2 separate regions of the Homo sapiens genome follow, and region 2 is linked to region 1. The links come from fine-mapping of genetic effects on gene expression. A gene starts in region 1. The other region holds a variant in brackets. All regions are shown on one strand. Distances are from middle to middle. Region 1 holds the start of CSRP3 (cysteine and glycine rich protein 3). Region 2 overlaps ZDHHC13 (zDHHC palmitoyltransferase 13).

The links.
Region 2: its variant is fine-mapped to the expression of CSRP3 in prefrontal cortex (CommonMind, PIP 0.95).

Annotation. Positions count from the first base shown.
Region 1 is chr11:19,196,738-19,206,254 of GRCh38, reverse strand. It overlaps CSRP3 (cysteine and glycine rich protein 3), which reads left to right and starts at 4,272. Exons shown (of 6, transcript NM_003476.5): 1 at 4,272-4,301. It overlaps CSRP3-AS1 (CSRP3 and E2F8 antisense RNA 1), which reads right to left. Exons shown (of 6, transcript NR_183675.1): 1 at 9,336-9,517.
Region 2 is chr11:19,172,092-19,181,608 of GRCh38, reverse strand. ZDHHC13 (zDHHC palmitoyltransferase 13) reads right to left here. Exons shown (of 17, transcript NM_019028.3): 16 at 8,789-8,886; 17 at 5,194-5,787. The coding sequence ends at 5,649. Among named protein-coding and RNA genes, the nearest start is that of CSRP3-AS1, 20 kb to the left of the region's middle. RefSeq lists an enhancer at 6,620-9,072. The variant C/T (reference allele first, on the strand shown) is at 5,791.

The sequences.
Region 1 (9,517 bases):
TTTCAAGTTGAACTCATCCACTAAATTTCAAGCAAAATAAAATTTAAAAGGCCGTAACACAGGAAATTGTCATAAAATTCAAGAGAAGATCCTGAAAGTTTCTAGAGGAAACAAGACAAGTCAATAAAGGAACATGAATATGACTGGCACCAAACTGTCATGTACGTTACTAAAAATAATTGAAGACAGTTTTCAAAGGTCTGACTGAAAATTATTTTGGATAGAGATTCCTAAATTTAACCAAACTAGCATTCAAGTGAAAGCAAAATGAAGACTATGAGGGGCGGGATAGTGTCCCTCCAAAATTCGTATGTTGAAGTCCTAACTCCCAGTAGCTCAGAACGGGACTGTATTTAGAGATAGGGTTCTTAAAGAGGTAATTAAGTTAAAATGAAATCATATGGGTGGCTCCTAATCCAATATGACTGCTGTCCTTGTAAGAAGAGGAAATTAGGACCCAGATACACAAGGAAGACCGTGTGCAGATACAGAGAGAAAACAGCCATCTACATTCAGAAGAAACCAACCCTGCCAGCACGTTGGTCTTGAACTTCCAGTTGCTGGAATTGTGCAAAAATAAGTTTCTGTTGTTTAAACCAGCCTGTCTATGGCATTTGTTACATTATGTGATAATTCAGTAAGTTTACAGCAGACTCTCTCAATGAATTCATCGAGAATGATTTACCTCACACACACACACACACACACACACACACACACATGCACACACACAGAATTAAAAATGTAAGGTACAAAAAGTAAATAAAGAACAGTAATTGGGAGGCTGAGTTGGTTGGATCACCTGAGGTCAGGAGTTCGACATCAGCCTGGCCAACACGGTGAAACCCCGTTTCTACTAAAAATACAAAAATTAGCCAGGCATGGTGGTGGGCACCTGTAACCCCAGCTACTTGGGAGGCTGAGGCAGGAGAATCACTTGAACCCAGGAGGCAGAGGTTGCAGTGAGCTGAGACTGCGCCACTGCACTCCAGCCTGGGTGACAAGAGCAAAACTCCATCTCAAAAAACAAACAACAACAATAACAAAACAGTAATTGAGTGAAGAAAGCACTAAAATTTATCATTAGGTTTAAGTAAGTACTAACCCATAATGAACAAAACTAATTACAATCCAAAACTGAAACTACACATCATGTTGTGGGGAGGTGTGTAAAGGCAAGTTCAGAATGTGCAAAGAGGGCAAGACGTGACGGTCAAAGTGCAGCATTCATTTCAAGCAAGGAAGCTCCTTTTATTTTTTAATGCTTAATTATAACTTTATTTTTTCCTTTGTTCTCCTAAAAAAATAAAACGGGATACATGTGCAGAGTGTGCAGGTTTGTTACATAGGCATACGTGTGCCACGGTGGTTTCTGCACCTATTGATCCATCCTCTAAGTTCCCTCTCCTCACCCATCCCCCACCCCACAGCAGGCCCTGGGGTGTGTTGTTCCCCTCTCTGTGTCCATGTGTTCTCATTGTTCAACTCCAACTTATGCATGGAAGCTCCTCTTTATTTATTTATTTATTTATTTATTTATTTATTTATTATGCTTTAAGTTTTAGGGCACATGTGCACAATGTGCAGGTTAGCTACATATGTATGCATGTGCCATGTTGGTGTGCTGCACCCATTAACTCGTCATTTAGCATTAGGTATATCTCCTAATGCTATCCCTACCCCCCCCCCCCCACCCCACAACAGGCCCCGGTGTGTGAGTTCCACTTCCTTGTCCATGTGTTGTCATTGTTCAATTCCCACCTATGAGTGAGAACATGCGGTGTTTGGTTTTTTGTCCTTGTGATAGTTTGCTGAGAATGATGGTTTCCAGCTTCATCCATGTCCCTATAAAGGACATGAACTCATCATTTTTTATGGCTGCATAGTATTCCATGGTGTATATGTGCCACATTTTCTTAATCCAGTCTATCATTGTTGGGCATTTGGGTTGGTTCCAAGTCTTTGCTATTGTGAATAGTGCCACAGTAAACATAAGTGTGCATGTGTCTTTATAGCAGCATGATTTATAATCCTTTGGGTATATACCCAGTAATGGGATGGCTGGGTCAAATGGTATTTCTAGTTCTAGATCCCTGAGGAATCACCACACTGACTTCCACAATGGTTGAACTAGTTTACAGTCCCACCAACAGTGTAAAAGTGTTCCTATTTCTCCACATCCTCTCCAGCAACTGTTTCCTGACTTTTTAATGATCGCCATTCTAACTGGTGTGAGATGGTATCTCATCGTGGTTTTGATTTGCATTTCTCAGACCTAAAACCATAAAAACCCTAGAAGAAAACCTAGGCAATACCATTCAGGACATAGGCATGGGCAAGGACTTCATGTCTAAAACACCAAAAGCAATGGCAACAAAACCAAAATTGACAAATGGGATCTAATTAAACTAAAGAGCTTCTGCACAGCAAAAGAAACTACCATCAGAGTGAACAGGCAACCTACAAAAATGGGAGAAAATTTTTGCAATCTACTCATCTGACAAAGGGCTAATATCCAGAATCTACAATGAACTCAAACAAATTTACAAGAAAAAAAAACAGACAACCCCATCAACAAGTGGGCGAAGGATAGGAACAGACACTTCTCAAAAGAAGACATTTATGCAGCCAAAAGACACATGAAAAAATGCTCATCATCACTGGAAGCTCCTCTTTTATCTGCTTTATATACTGATTTTCCTCTTATCTACAGAAAAAAGTATTCTGATGCAAACACACACACAAAAAAAATTTTAAAGCTACTATTGGTTGACCAGTTTCAGTGACTCAAGCCTGTAATCTCAGCACATTGAGAGGCCGAGGTGGGCAGATCACTTGACCCCAAAGTTTGAGACCAGCCTAGGCAAAATGGTGAAACCACATCCCTACAAAAAAATTAGCCAGGCGTGCTGGTGTGCGCCTATAGTCCCAGCTACTCAGGAGGCTGAGACAGGAGGATTGCTTGAGCCCAAAAGATCGAGGCTGCAGTGAGCTGTGATCATGCCACTGTACTCCAGCTTAGGCAACAGAACGGGACCATTTCTCTAAACAAACAAACAAACAAACAAACAAAAGCCACTATCCTAGACGATTTCTAAAGTCCTTTCTAGCTTTAACTTTCTAAAATCCTCGTGATTGCCTCGTCTTTATGATGAAGATGCCATTTAGTGAAAACACAGACCACGGATATCTCATAGGAGGCTATGCCACGGCCGTCTTTGTGAAATTACTGCAACCTTCTTGACAGTGAAATATTCTATCCTTCAACAATTGCTTTGTGGGCAGGTAACCAAAGGGCTAATATCTGATGTGAAGGCTGGATCATGAACCTCCCGGTTGGGTTCTACATGTACCTTACCTCAACATCCGGGTCAACATGAGTGGAAGGGGCTTGGTGCCTCAGTTTCCTCATCTATAACATGAAGAATTGGTCTTCACATCTCTGAACCTCTTGTCAGCTTTTCAATGCCATAATTTATATCAGTCCCTGGTGCTTGATCAAATTTAAACGGTGTGAATTCCAGACAAAGAAAAATTAGACCTCCAAAGAAAATATGGGTCTACAGAGACATATCAAGATGTTATAAATATAATGTGATGATGATAAATATGCACTGCTGTATCAAATTCTTAAATAGAAAAGGATAATAACAAAGTAAATCAAAACTTTTTAGAGAAAACTTCGTTTCCTAGGATAGATGGAGTGACAGGTCCCAAGTGATGTGCCAACCTTTTTTCTCCCAAGCTTCTTTGAAGAGATTATCTAAGTATCGTTTCAGACACCCATCACCCTTATTTTTAGCTCTGAGTTCTCTTCACGAGTGTGGTGACCTGTGGCTCTAAGTTCCAGAGGCTCCCAGATATGGCACATGACTCATTTGCAGGTACCCTGCAATGATTTCCAGGAAGGTCAGTGGGGTGGGGGCCTGGAGAAATGATTTTTGATGTTAAACCCTTAGCTCTTGTTCCTGTTCCAACCACTTGATCAGAAATGACACACTTCATAAATTGATCCCTTGGTGCCATAAGCAATTGGCAGTGCAAATAGAACCCAAGTGATTCGGTTCTCCAAGAGGCTCACAGCTGGCTGGGGGGTTGGGGGAGACAAAACTCAGGGCTTTGGTCACAGTCTATTTTCAGCCCCTGATAGCAGTTGTGTTACTCACGTCTCATTCACCCTCTCCCTTGGCCTCCCTCCTGCCCTTCCCCCAGCAGGCCAAGGCTGGTGACAGCCTTCATATATTTAAAGAGGACAAGAGCCCCTCAGACTCAGTTGAGCTGAACGGAGTCCACACAGGCAGGTGAGTGGAGCAAGGCAGACATTTGAGCTGGAGGTGGGTTGGTTCTGTGGCTGGTTTGGACTATAAAGGGTCCCATAGAGTAAGAGCACATTTTACGTCTCAAGTGCCAGCACCCTCTCTGGTTCTGTGCAAGGAGGCTCAAGTTGTACTTGACTCTGGTGTGGATCTAGCAGGTATTAAAAAATTCCTGCAAGGATGGTTAATATTTAGGGGGCTTAAGGGACCTCATAGGCAGATAAATGAGTAAAGAATTATCCTCATTATAAAACTACTTACGTGGTGGAATTACATTTCCTGTCATCTTAGTTGGAACAACTGGAAAGCGGGAGGAAATAATGGAAAGTCTGCTGACCTTCTCGTCTTACAACCACCATATAATTCATGGATGACAGACTTTGAGAAGGTTCCTGCCCTCAGGGGCTTGGTCTCCTCTTCTGCAAGGATCAATACAAATTGGCGACATTTTTTCCAAACTGTAAAGTACTGCACAGATACAAAGCGATAAGCGATTGTACTAGATGCAATATATAAGACAGCTTTCCCATGCTCAATTTACCTGGAATGGTGTTATTCAAAAGGTCGTGGTGAATGACTGAGATTTTGGGCTTGTTGATTTTAAATAGACTTTTGTATCCCAAAGATATTCAGCAACAAGTTTGCTTTTAATCTTTTGAAATTAATCAAAACTGGACCCCAAAAAGACATTGCTATGTTGAAATATATTAAAAGCTCTATTAAATGGGAGGATAATTTATCCAGTGGTTAGGATTCCCACTGTTTCCTCTAGGTTTTAGTCAAGGACTTTTTAAAATATCCCAGTGAATGACAGACATAGGTGTGATTGAGAATAAGAAGAGGTTTTAAGCAATGGTCTGAGTGGAAATGCTGCTGAAAGATCCAAGCTGCCGACTCTAATTTCTGCCCTGTTCCTGAGCCAAGGTGGTGACTCCTCCAAGAAGGAGGAGTTGAGTTACTGGTCTGAGGAACCTTGTCTCTGCAATACGATTCAATGTAATTTAATAAGCATGTATGGACCATCTCCTATGTCAGGGCTGGAGGGAGGTAGAGGCAGCTCTATGCAGGGAAGGGTATAAGTGAACAGCACGAAGAGTGGGAAATTGGGGATGGCCTGTGTCCTCAGTTTACATCTGGGATTAAATCTCAATGCTGGGTACATACAATTCATCACAATGCATGTAGAACTGCTTTATGATCCAGAAAATGTGAGGGAGTCTTATGACTTGGCTTTGTTCCCTTTCTGAACAACTCAGTCGTTTGTGGTCAGTGGCAATGAGCCCAGGCTATTGGGCAGGAGGTGTAGCTGAGCCCCAGGGCTTTGTGTCCTCCCTGGGGTTCAGGCAGACAGGTGCTCTGCAGCCCAGACACACGTGTCATCCATCAGAAACAGGAGACACAGGGCAAGGGGCCTCCTCCTTCGAAGGAGAGAAGGGGGGAAGGAAAGAGAGAAGGAGGGAGGGAGGAAGGGAGGAAGAGAGGAATGAAGGAAGAGGGAGCTGCAGCAGCATTCAGCCAGCAAATAGCCAAAATTCCCTTGGAGGAAGTGGAGACAGAATCTTGATAGAATAGAAACTCAGAAATCCTGGGATATTCAAGAAGAAAATAAAGATAATCAGTTATAGAGCCCGTTCAAATTATAGCTCTGAATATCACTTAACTTATCTGAGTTTCCATTTTCTGAACAATAAAACTAAGGGTAGCCTACCTCTATCAAAGGGACTTGTGAGAATTGAATGAGATAAAGTATAGGAAAGTACTTTTGTAAAGTTTAATATAACCGTACAAATATGTGAGAACGTTGAGAAAAGGCATACAGCCAAACCCAGTGGGTTTTGGGGGGGTTTCCTGCTAAGTACAAGCGTGCTGATAAAAGTCCAGAGGTCAGAGTGGGTAAGAAGCTGACCAGGAGTTAGAAGATAATTAATTTGTTTTACAAGAGGAAAGACCCAGGGCTAGGAATATAACACACAGGAAATACAAGTCTTGAGGCAGACAGATTTCCAGTTACAAGTGTGCTGTTCAGATATCTGTGAATAAATACTGTATAGAGGGTTGGGCTTCATGCACAAAGAGAAATGTGATGCCTGCAAATGTGAAAAACTGCAGTTATTCATCCCAGTGAAGAATGGCAGGAAGGGAGACAGTAATGGTCTTAAAGGGCATTGAGGATGGAGCCTTTTCTGAGCTTTACTGTGGGAAAGGGTTGATCATGATTTGATGGTCGTTTATGGCCTAGGCAGGCATGGAACGAGTACTAGCTTATTTAAGGGTCACAAAAAGTTATGCAAAACTCATTTTTCAGAGGAAGAAACTAAAGTTCTAGAAAGCTTAGGAATTGCCCAGCATCACATGGCTGAGAAAGCGGCAGAGCCAGGAGGTAAACTGGGATATGATGTGGTCTTTAGAAATAAATTGTAGAGGTCAAAATAGAACAAAGAGTGAGTTTTGGGAAGTAAAAGCTGGCCACGCTTCAGATATAATTTCACAAAAGGTGTAAGATGCCCATGTTCTACAGCCTTCATTTAATGTATGTCTACCATGTCTGAGTTTAAAAGGGGCTGAGAGCCAACACTCAGGTTTATTTCCATGCTGGCAATGAGCAACCTGTTCTTCCTGGGCTCTGTGAAAGGGCCTCTGGCCGGAGGACGTCATATATCTGGGTTCAGAAGCTCAGGAGGAAGCAGCCACTGACCTTGAATGTCCTACACCGAGAACTGAAGGGCATGAGCTCCCCAGACTACAGGGCCCCTGGCTAGGCATGCTGCCTCCAACCCAATCCAACAACGCAAGGGGACCGACTCTCACCCCGACCTGGGCACACCTGTCCTGGGGCACCGCACACTCCAAAGGCTGAAAAACAAAGCTGATTCACAGTCTGAACCAGAAGGGCCATGGAAAACAAGCAGGGAGTGAGTTGTTTGTTCTAAAAGAACAGACTTGAAAACTGGAGATAATGTAATAACAACAATAATAGTCATGATGCAAGTAACTACAATTATTCAATTCCTGCTATGTATTAAGTAATTCTATATGGTGTCTTAGCTATTATTATCTTCTTTAACCTGAAAACAACCTTCCCAGACAAGCCTTCTCATATTGTCTTTACATGAGGACATGCATTGAGGACACTGGGTCAGAGAATTTGAGCAACTTGCCCAGTGTTCAACAGTTAGTGTTTCTGAACTTAAGCTTGGTTCTTCCAAAGCCCATGGTTTTCACTGTGGCTATGTCATCTTTCTTACCCAAATTAAGAGTGAATAAAGGAGAGGGTTTGAGAGGGCACCCCATTGGGCAGCTTTTCTGCAAAGTGAGGTTTCAATCACTTTTCAGATCCTTAAATCTGTCTCAGGGCTTAAAGGACCCTTGAAGGGACTTCACTGTATAGCAGCCACTTGGACATCCGTCCCCACCTCAGCTGAAAATCAATAGTGCAGAAGAAATCTCCAGTTCCAAGGAAGCCCTTTCCATGTTGAACAGCCGTAACTCAGAAAGTCATTGATTTCAGTGAATGAATTCAGTTTCCCTGTTAGTCCCACCCTTGAATACCCTCTGTGTCCCATGGAGAGACAATGGATTGGTCACGTCTCAATTCCCATCAACTGGGAAGTCTGGGTGATGGAGGTGCTGACCCTTGTCCTCTCTCCAGTGTTATAAACAGGAGCATGAGATACAGAACCAGCTTAACGGGGGGTTAAATGGCAGCTCTTCCAATTACTAGCTGTGTGACCTTGGAAAAGCTACTTAAGCTCTTCAGTTCTCTTATCCATAAAAATGGAAATAAAATTTGCTCTGGGCAGCTGTTGTAAGTATTAAAAAATAATATATGTAAAGCAACTGACATAAAATAATATATGTAAAGCTTTGGAGTCAGAGAAACGTAAGTTCCAATCTATTCATGTGACACATATCAGTCCCATGAACTTGGACTAATGTAATTTCCCAAAGCCTCCATTTCCTCATCTGTAAAGTAAATGTTATAATAGCACCTACCTTGAAGGGTTGTTGTGAAGATTAAACGATACCCAAGGGCAGTGCTCCAGGCATGTTAACTTCAATAATAAAGTTAGAAATGACTATTACTATCGCTTAGATTCCATATATATATATATATATGTTCCTATGATCCAAAATCTTTGCTTCAGCCAGTGTAGACAATTGAACTCACTGCAGGAAATCAGGCATCTAGTAGGATGACCAACTGAGCTAGCACTGAGCTGAAAACGGTGGCATTGTGGCACTGTGGCTTGAGGTCTCTGCCCAAAGTCATGGCCTAAAGTTCCCTCCTGGGTGCTCATTTTATGTACCCACCACTTTTGCCCTAACTCATCATTGCTCAGCTTTATAGTTGGTAGTGAAAGAAGAAAGAAAGAAAGAAAGAAAGAAAGAAAGAAAGAAAGAAAGAAAGAAAGAAAGAAAGAAAGAAAGAAAGAAAGAGGAAAAGAGGGAGAGAAAGAGATGGAGAGAGGAAGGGAGGGAAGGAAAGGAAAAAGGATGGAAAGAAGGAGGGAAGGAAGGAAGGAAGGAAGGAAGGAAGGAAGGAAGGAAGGGAGGGAGGGAGGGAGGGAGGGAGGGAGGGAGGGAGGGAGGGAGGGAGGGAGAAATAGTTGGATTAGGAAGAATGTGCCCAAAATACACAGTTTAGTTATTCTTTTGAAAATTCAGATTGATGAATAACAACTTAAAATTGTGGGAGAACCTAATTGGTTCTCACATTTTATATTACTCTACAATTTACAGAATGATATGACAGTACTTGAACTAATAGGGTCCTCTCAGCAATAGTGAAATCAAAAGGATTATTGCCCTCATTCTAGTGAAGACACTGAAGTTCAGAGAGATTGAACGGTTTTCCCAGATCACACAGCTTCGAAGAGGCAAAATGGAACTAGAACTCCAGCCTCTGGCACCTGATCCAGTGTTTTTCCCACTGCCCCACTGAAGCACATTCCTAGTATAATCTCTTCTATGGTATTAGTTACATCTTAGTTTAAAAGTGGGCACAAGGTAGTCTCTCACCGGGATCTGAGTATCCAAATCTGGAGTCCAACCTCTTCCAAGTTGATGTCACAGGGCTGTCCATTCTATCTCATCCTCGTAAATTCCAGACTGTCCCCCATTTCAATCTTGACCCACGATTTGTCTTTGACAACATAGTCATCTCAGGGACTGGCCCAGAGAGTCGTGCCAGGTGGTATGAT
Region 2 (9,517 bases), 25 kb after region 1:
TTCCAGGTTTGCTGAGGGGTAACACATATTTGAGAAATGACCACAGGACAATGCAACCTCCTCCTCCTCTGCTGCATTTCACAGTGACTCGCCCCACCGTCCAGCTACCCAGGAAATCTGAAGCTAAAAACTTTAGCCATCCTTAGCTTTGCTCTCTTCCTCACCTGACCTTGCCTCACTTCTCAAGTCTCCTGGATTCTGACTCCAAATGTCTCTAGAATACATCCCCTCCATCCCTCTTTTTAGGATGTGTAATAGTCTGTTAGGGTTGCCATAAGAAAGTACCACAGGCTGAGTGACTTAATAGAAACGTATCGTCTCACATTTCTGGAGGCTGAAGTCTGAGATCAAGGTGTCAGCAGTGTTAGTTTCTTCTGACACCACTCTCATTGGCTTGGAGATGGGTGTCTTCTCCCTTTGTCTTCACATGGTTTTTGCTCTGTGGGTGTCTGTGGTCTAATCTCCACTTCTTGGAAGGACACCAGTCATATTGGATTAGGGACCACCTGAATGACCTCACTGTAACTTAATTACCTTTTTCAAGGCCCTTATCTACACATGCAGCCATCACATTCTGAGGTACTGGGGGTTAGGACTTCAACAAATAAATTTTGCAGAGACACAGTTCAGCCCATAACAGTGTATCACATAAAGACTTTCACAAATTGGCCTTGGCCTTACCCCTTCAACTTAGCTTTAGACAATCTCTTCCAGACAAGTTCCAGCTACACTCAAAGACTCGGAGCTTTCCAAACATGCCCAGAACCCTCACCCCATCATGTCTTTGCTAATGCTGTTCCTTCTGCCTAGAATTCCTGGAAGATGGGAACCTCCCCCCATCTCTACCCACTAATCCAACTTCTTAGCCTGGTGAACTCCTATTAAGCAAGTCACAGGTCAAATGCCATCTCCTCTGGAAATTGTTCCTGAACTACCTGGGCAGAATTAATCTACCTCTGTACTCCCATAGCCGGTATGTAATTAGCATAGTACTTATGTCATCGTATTGAAATTTTGAATTCCTATTTGCCTCCTTGTAAGAATGTGACATGTCAAGCCATTCACAGTGCTTGACACATAGAAGACACCTAATAAACATTTGTTGAGTGAATGAAATAGGGGAGAGTATAGGCCAGGCTAAATGCAAATTCTGCTAGAATCTAAAAGTTTATTACATAGTGGACTGAATGAGTTTAGAAAAAAACAAAACAAAGGAAGAAGCTTATTGTGGTTCAGCAATAGTTGTATTTCCCTTCCACTTCTTGGGTATGCTGTTCCACTACATTTCCCAGGCTCCCTTGCTGTTCACTGAGACACATGAGTGAGTTTGCCCAATGAAGTCCTGGCCTCCATGACCTTTCAGGAGAGTCTCCATTCTTTCCATATGTCTGGATGCAGAAGTCCAGTGGATACTGAGGCCCTAGGAATGGTGGAGCCACTAGATGGGAAGCAGCTTGAGTCACTGCATGGAAGAACACCTGCTAACAGCTAAACAGACCATGACATGAGAAAGAAACATTGTGTGAAGCCACTGAGATTGGGAGGATATTTATTATTGCATGAGCTCCCATGACTACTACACACCTGAAATATAGACTGTGCTACATCCAAGTGATTCCACTCATGGTGCCAGCGTCCATCCTAAGTCACAGGGGGCATGATCAAGATTTTGCCTGATATTTGTGAAAGAGATTCAAATTTGTTGTCTCCAATGTGGCTATATACATATTTGAAGAAAGGAATAAAGTTATGGCAAAATAGCATAACAGTCACATTCCCCTGGCCCTGAAAAACATGATTGGGTTTGTCTTGGATTTAAAATAAAACAAAGACTAAACCTTGCTATTATGCCACAAGCTACTGCCGTCTCCTCTCTCCTTTCAGAGCCAAGCTGTAAGACTAGATTCCACTTAGTCCTTAGTCTTTTAGACTCTTTAGTCTTCCTTGCCTCTACTCTCCATCCTCAACCACCACTAATAACTGAGGCCACTAATAACCTCTTTTTTTTTTTTTTTTTGAGATGGAGTCTCTCTCTGTTGCACAGGCTAGAGTGCAATGGCACTATCTCAGCTCACTGCAACCTCTGCCTCCTGGGTTCAAGCGATTCTCTTGCCTCAGCTTCCTGAGTAGCTGGGATTACAGGTGTGTACCACCATGCCTGGCTAATTTTTGTATTTTTAGTAGAGATGGGGTTTCCACCATGTTGGCCAGCCTGGTCTCGAACTCCTGGCCTAAAGTGATTTGCCAATCCCCACCGCGCCCGGCCCTACTAATAACCTCTTAATCACAAACTCTTTTGTCTTTCATCAGCTATTCTCAACTTCTGCTCAAGCTGCTCCTTAGTTCCTGCCAACTGACTGCTTCCTCTCTGAAATGAATCCTCTCTTGATTCTATGACACTATTATTATTATTATTATTATTATTTTGAGGTGGAGTTTCCCTCTTGTTGCCCAGGCTGGAGTGCAGTGACACAATCTCAGCTCACCGCAACCTCCACCTCCCAGGTTCAAGCGATTCTCCTGCCTCAGCCTCCCGAGTAGCAGGGATTACGGGAATGTGCCACCACACCCAGCTCATTTTGTATTTTTAGTAGAGATGGGGTTTCTCCATGTTGGTCAGGCTGGTCTCAAACTCCCGACCTCAGGTGATCTGCCCACCTCGGCCTCCCAAAGTGCTAGGATTACAGGAGTGGCACTGTGTCTGGCTGACACTACTTTCTTGTCCTCCTACTCGATCTCCTTTTAGTTACTTCTTCCTTCTCCAGCTCCCTAAATCCATATTCCATAAGCTTTTGCTCCTGCCCTTCTCCTTCCTCTCACACTTTTTAGTCTGTTTGTTCGCATTAGATGTCATCTTTGGTATCTTTTTAGCATTCATCTTTCCATTTGAGGAAGGTGACTCTCCATTTTCATCTATTTCCTACCTCTCCCCTGTGACAATCTTATCCATCTATGCAGATGATTCCCATCCATGCCCTGGCCTCTTTCCAGTTGCCTTCTAGACTTTCCCACTGGATAGCCTGCAAGTATCTCAAACTCAGTAGATCCCAGCCACCAAACTCATCACCTAGTCTCCCCACACTGTGTTCCTTATTTCTCAGAGTAGCATCTTCAACCTCTCATTCATTGGGTTCAACATTTCAAAGCCATCTTTGACTCCTCTTTTTCTCCCCGCATCCACTCTGTGATCTGGGCCTGCTGGGTCTCCTCTGTGCCACTGTCATCATCTTGCTTCAGGCCTTCATTACCTCTTGCCTAGACCATCATTAACAGCTTATTTCTAATATTCTGTATCTGTCAAGTTTCACCAGAAAAACAGAAACCACACTAGTTATTTTAATAAAGAGAATATAGTAAAGGGAATTAGCTAAACAGGTGCTATTATTTTTGAAAAAGTAACAAGGGAACACACTGATTTAACATAGAGATAGTAATTGCTAGAGGCAGCTATCACTCCTGGGAATAGGGAAACTAAGAGAAGAGATGGGTTATCATAATTCAGATGCCCAGAGAAGAAGTATCCCGGGGCAGAAGTCAGATGTCAAAGGAGAGAGCCCTGCCTGGTTATTGCTAGTACTTCTAATGGGGCACAATGAAGTAGGTTTTGGGAAGAAGAAAAGTTAGACATTGGTTCCAAAATGTCATTGCAGGGCAAAGGGCCATCGTTGGAGCAACACTGAGAGGAAGAGCGGGCAAGAAGAATGGAATAAGTCCCTTTTCTGCTCCTCCTTGCAGTCTACTACCGACTTTAACAGGAAGTCATCTGGCAGGGAGACTGTAGCTTGCAGAATTCTAGCCCTAGAACATACAACACAGAGCACGGAAGACTGGATTTGGTGCATTTCTCTACCTCTAGCTTATCTTTCTGGTAATCAGTTTTCTGTTAGACTTCTCAATTAATAGCCAGCATTTATTGAACATTTACTATATGCCAAGTACAATTCTAAGCACTTTTAAACATTAACACATTTAATTCTCATAATGACATTTCAAATTGTTTACTATTATTATCTACATAATCCAAATGAGGAAACTGAGTTTCTAGAGATTTATGTCATTTGCCCAAAGGGATTAAAAGTAACTTATGTGGTAATTAATAGGTCATAGATTCAAACCCAGGGTCCCTAGAATCTGGTCTCTTTACCACTACAACTGCATACCTATTAAGCAGTGATTCTCAAGCTTAAACTTTTCACAATGTATAGAATGGAGAAGGTAAGGTTCCTTAAGTAAATGATTCTCAAACAGTAGTATGCATATGTAAGAATCATTAGGATTCCAGCACTCTCTCCCTAGAGACTGATTTGAAAGGTCTGAGATGGAGAAACTGAATTTTAAACTGTGAGCCCTAGACACCCACCCTGGCCCTGTGACTCTGATCTAATGTCTCTGGACCATTTGGACCACAATACTAACTTGGTAGGAGTTGGTGAGAGAAGAAGGGAGAAAGAGAATATACCTTGAAAAAGCTCTTCTGTACTCCAATTGAGAAGCACAGTCTTCAAACACAATTCTGATAGCATCATCTCTTGCTTAAAACCCTGAAATTGGTTCAACAAATTCTAATATTTTTTGAACAAATACTATGTGTCACGTGATATTCTAGGTGACTGTGACTGTACAGTGGCAGCCCCATTTGGTATCTCTGTGACCCTGGAGAAGATAAAAACTTCTTTGGCTTTAGTTTCCTTATCTGCATCTCTTATCTCTGGTAGAAGAGAGAACGGATCCTTGCAATGAAAGGCCACATGATTAGAGTACAACATGCTCCACTGACACTGCTAAACAAAACAGGATTATATGCTTCAAGGCTTTGTAGGTCACAATGAGAATTTTTGCTTTTACCCCAAGAGCAACAGGAACCCAAGGGAGGTTATTCAGCAGGAAGGTGCCATGCCCAGGGGTGTATAAATACTATACTAAAGTTGAATTAGCATTTCCTGTAGAACAAGGGAAATTAGTAATTACAGTCATATCAGTCTAATATTTTGAGGGTACTAAGTAAAGTTGTAATTAATATTTAAGACTTTCTATGTTCTATTTTCTAAGTAAGATGAAAAACCAAATTAAATCTTGCTTACTGGTATTAATCATAATCTCAACTCATTCCTGGAATTGTGAACTAATTTGTGTCCTATGTACATCTTAATTTAAGACTCTAGAAGTGTTAAGTGTCAGAAACCAAGTCTCAACTACAAAAAAAAATTTTTTATTAAGTGTGAAAGCAAAACAGGTACATCTATTTAAATATTTTTTACATATTTATAGATACAACAAAGACAAATAACTTAGCAAAAATTACAAGTTTAAAGAATAGTACTATTTTGAAACAGCCAATATAGTATCTGAAAATATTCCATTTTATCCATAATCAGTGAGTATTATTTCCAAAAAAAGTAACTTGCATTTTCTTGTGAAAAATATGGTTTTTTTTTTAGATGTCTGCCAAGATTTATCAGAAAAGTCCATCTTTCTAAACCTAAAAAATTGTAATGCCTTTATTGAGAACTTTTTTTACCTAATGGCTTTAAAAACCACGTGTTTTCCTTTGGACTTAGGTGAATTCTAAATCTTTACTTCACTTTCAAACTACAGGGCATCGACATAAACAAAAACAAATCAGATTGAGAGTTTTGGGTTGCTTTTCTTCATACTGAGCGAAGAACCTTCTCCCTGGCTGGGTGAAAGACCATGGTGTACTGTGATGTCCAATCTACCACACAGGGCTTCACCAAGCCAAAGCAGCCACACTGAAAGAAATCTGCCAGGTTCTGCATGAATCCAAGACTG[C/T]CAAGAAAAAAAAAAAGAGAACATGTCTTACTATATTTCCTGTGTAGCTTGACAAACATTTATGGAGAATCTATAATATGCAATGTCCTTTGAACATCTTGCAGAAATCCAGGGGTAGATGGGGTAGATCAGATAGTTCCTGGGCTTCTGGTACCTTAAAACTGAAGCCTATTTCTGGACCTGAATCTATATTTGGAGATTTCCTGGCTTCTGCTCGCTCAGCCACTTAATTGGGTTTTTCATCATCACTTCATTTTGGATTCCCCACTTAATGGACTGGCCACTGACATCAATAAGTTTCTTTCTTTCTATTCCTACTTCCCTAATTCAGACCTTGATTACCTCAAAGGCCACATAGGCCAGAACAACTGTAATCAACAAGATGGGATTTTCCCTAAACCTTTTTTTTTTTTTTTTTTTTTTTTTTTTGAGACGGAGTCTCGCTCTGTCACCCAGGCTGGAGTGCAGTGGCGTGATCTCGGCTCACTGCAAGCTCTACCTCCCAGGTTCACGCCATTCTCCTGCCTCAGCCTCCTGAGTAGCTGGGACTATAGGCGCCCACCACCACACCCGGCTAATTTTTTGTATTTTTTTAGTAGAGACGGGGTTTCACCGTGTTAGCCAGGATGGTCTCAATCTCCTGACCTCGTGATCCGCCCACCTCAGCCTCCCAAAGTGCTGGGATTACAGGCATGAGCCACCGCACCCGGCCTCCCTAAACCTTATAAGTAACTCTCTAAATGAATTCTCTGTCTCAATTCCTTTTAATTCATCTTGCATATTGCAGACTGTTGTCCTCCAAAAACCCTGATATAGTCATAGCCCCTCACCTCCCAATCAAAACCCTTTAAAGATACTCCTCTGCCTAGAGGCTCAAATAAACATTCCTCCTCTTTGTATTCAAGGCTCTATATAAGGTATCCCTCTAGTTCTAGCTCCTCTGTGCATCTTTATAAATCTCCTGCTCCAGCTACTCTGGCTCTATTTTTCCCATGATCATAGATGCGTGGGCCTGGAACGCACACTGCTCTACACTTAGCTCAGGAACCCCCTTATCCTTTCAAGTCCTACCAGTTCTCAAGGCCCAGGCCAATACCCACATTTCCACTGGAGCTTTCCTGACTGCACTGTCTTAGGCATCATTTTTTCTCCATTAAATTTCGGAAGTACCACTATCTATTCCAGTTATGAGAAATGCTCATTTTTACGCATATGCTCTATCTTTTAAGTGCCTAACCCAATCCCTTACACACAACAAAACACACCTGTCCATGAGGATGACTGCGTTGCTGTTTAGAAGATTGTGTTCTGCATGGGGATGATGGCATTGCTGCCAGTAAAGGACCAACACTACTCAGAGGGCAACTTCCTGGGAAGAAGGCTATGTGGAGTTGATGGGTTGGCAGTGGGGATGCATGCTAGAAATGTATAGGGCCTGGTTCAAAAGCTAGTTAGAGTAGTGTCCCCTTCCCCTTGGTTTCAGTTTCAGTTACCTGTGGTCAACAGCAGCCCAAAAATATTAAAATGAAAAATTCCAGAAATAAACAATTAGTAAGCTTTAACTTGCATGCCGTTCTGCGGAGCATGATGAAATCTCACGCCATCCAGCTCTGTCTGCCTGAGACATAAATCATCCCTTTGTCTGGTGTTTCCACTCTGTCTACACTACCTGCCTGTTGGGTTATCAGACTGAAATAACATGGTATATACCGAGTTCAGTACTATCTGCAGTTTCAGGCATCCATTGGGGTTCTTAGAACATATCCCTCATGGAGAAAGGGTGACTACTGTACTGAGTAAAAGTAACTTAGGGGAGGAAAACAAGTAAAATCTTTGGTTTGGGCGGGACTCAGGTTTTCCCTTGAGTTCCTCTAGTTGATGCTGCCATCATTCAGCAAACGTGCTCTAGTGCTCTCATGTGTCCCTCTATTCAGACTCTTCTCTAGGGCTTGGAATGCCCTTCCTCCCTCCCAACTCCATTGTGCCCTGCCCCACATCTCTCAAGGCTCAGCTTCAAATTCCAACTCTATCACAGGCTTCCATAGTTTAGTGGAGTAAACATTTATTCCTCTGGTTTAGCTACAAAGAAAGGGATTTTATTATCACTGTCAATGTGAAACAATCATCACAAGTTTACGCTCCTTTCCACTCGCCATTGCTTTAGCCACCTCTTCCCAGTTAAGTCAATTTCTCTCCTCTCCTAAATACACATTGTAGTTATATCCCAGTCTCTGATCCCCTTGTCTAACAGCCTAACAGTTTCATCTTGTACCAACAGCATGCTTTAAAATAGACTGCTCATGAGATATGCAGCGAGCATTCAAATCCCCAGAGGGCTCTGGGTCACCTCTGCAGCACTCCCAGTTTCCAAGACCCTGCCATAAGTGGCAGGGAGATAAGCTTCAAAGCCCAATCTTTCATATCGTAAGACGAAGGTCTTTCTATACATACTCTCATTTTCAACTGAAAACGTGTTTTATACAACCAAATGCTCCAGGGGGAACAAATCCAAATCTGAAAAATTGGCTTCTCCCTGGTACAAGAGGGCACATTCAACATAGGGCTAGAAGAATTAGTGGTGATAGAAAGCCAGGCTGAAAATCCTGGCAAAGCACACAAGTGAACGCTCTCTACAGAGCACCCTGTGGCTGGCTCTCTCAGCCATACACTTAATTATCTCACATCAACTCCACGCCAGCAACAAACAACCTTGTGACCATGTGGCTTGACTGGAGAGATTCCCCACCTTGGCAAAACTTCAAAGTCACTTACTATTTGTGCTGTGTCCAGTAAACTAACTCTCGAATTCTTACCACCGTGGGGCTCACGACTTTACCACTCACCCCATCACTAAAGCTTCTCTAAGAAAAGGGGGGTCAACTGTACTAGATGGCAAATTACAGAACAGCAGCATGGCCATGGGTAGTGGCACCAGCTTAGGAAACCAGTGACTAGGGATCTTCCACAGGACTCAGCATCCAAAACAGGTCTCGCTTACTTGTATGGTGTCTTCCTGAGGGACAACGTCTGTTTCATATGCTTGCTCTGCTTCTGCAGGCTGATTCTCTCATGGGAGGTCAGGCCCAGAAAGGCAATCTGAAAAAGAAGGGTGGAAGGTTGCACACATTCAGTGTGCAACTTTTAGATAAATAAAACAATATAAGATCAGTATCAGTGCAATTATCTCAATTTGTGTGTTCTCCTTAGTATCTCCTTGAAAAGGGACAAAGAAAAAGTTAATCAGAAGTAAAGAACATTTAATTCCAAAAACATGGGGAAGACTGAGAATTAAGGTAACTTAAAAATTCTTAAATCATTAAAAACCATAACTACTCACAGAGTTATCTCATTTAAACCTCAAATTCCTTATCTGTAAAGCAGCTCATCATACCACTCTCATCATATTATTTTAAGGATTTGAGATAGTCTATTTAAAATACCTAACTGCGGCAGGGCACGGTGGCTCACGCCTGTAATCCCAGCACTTTGGCAGGCCGAGGCGGGTGGATCACGAGGTCAGGAGTTCGAGAGCAGCCTGGCCAACGTGGTGAAACCCCGTCTCCACTAAAAATACAAAAATTAGCTGGGCGTAGTGGTGGGCACCTGTAATCCCAGCTACTTGGGAGGCTGAGGCAGGAGAATCACTTGACACGGGAAGGCGGAGGTTGCAGTGAGCCGAGATCCCGCCACTGCACTCCAGCATGGGTGAAAGAGCGAAACTCTGTCT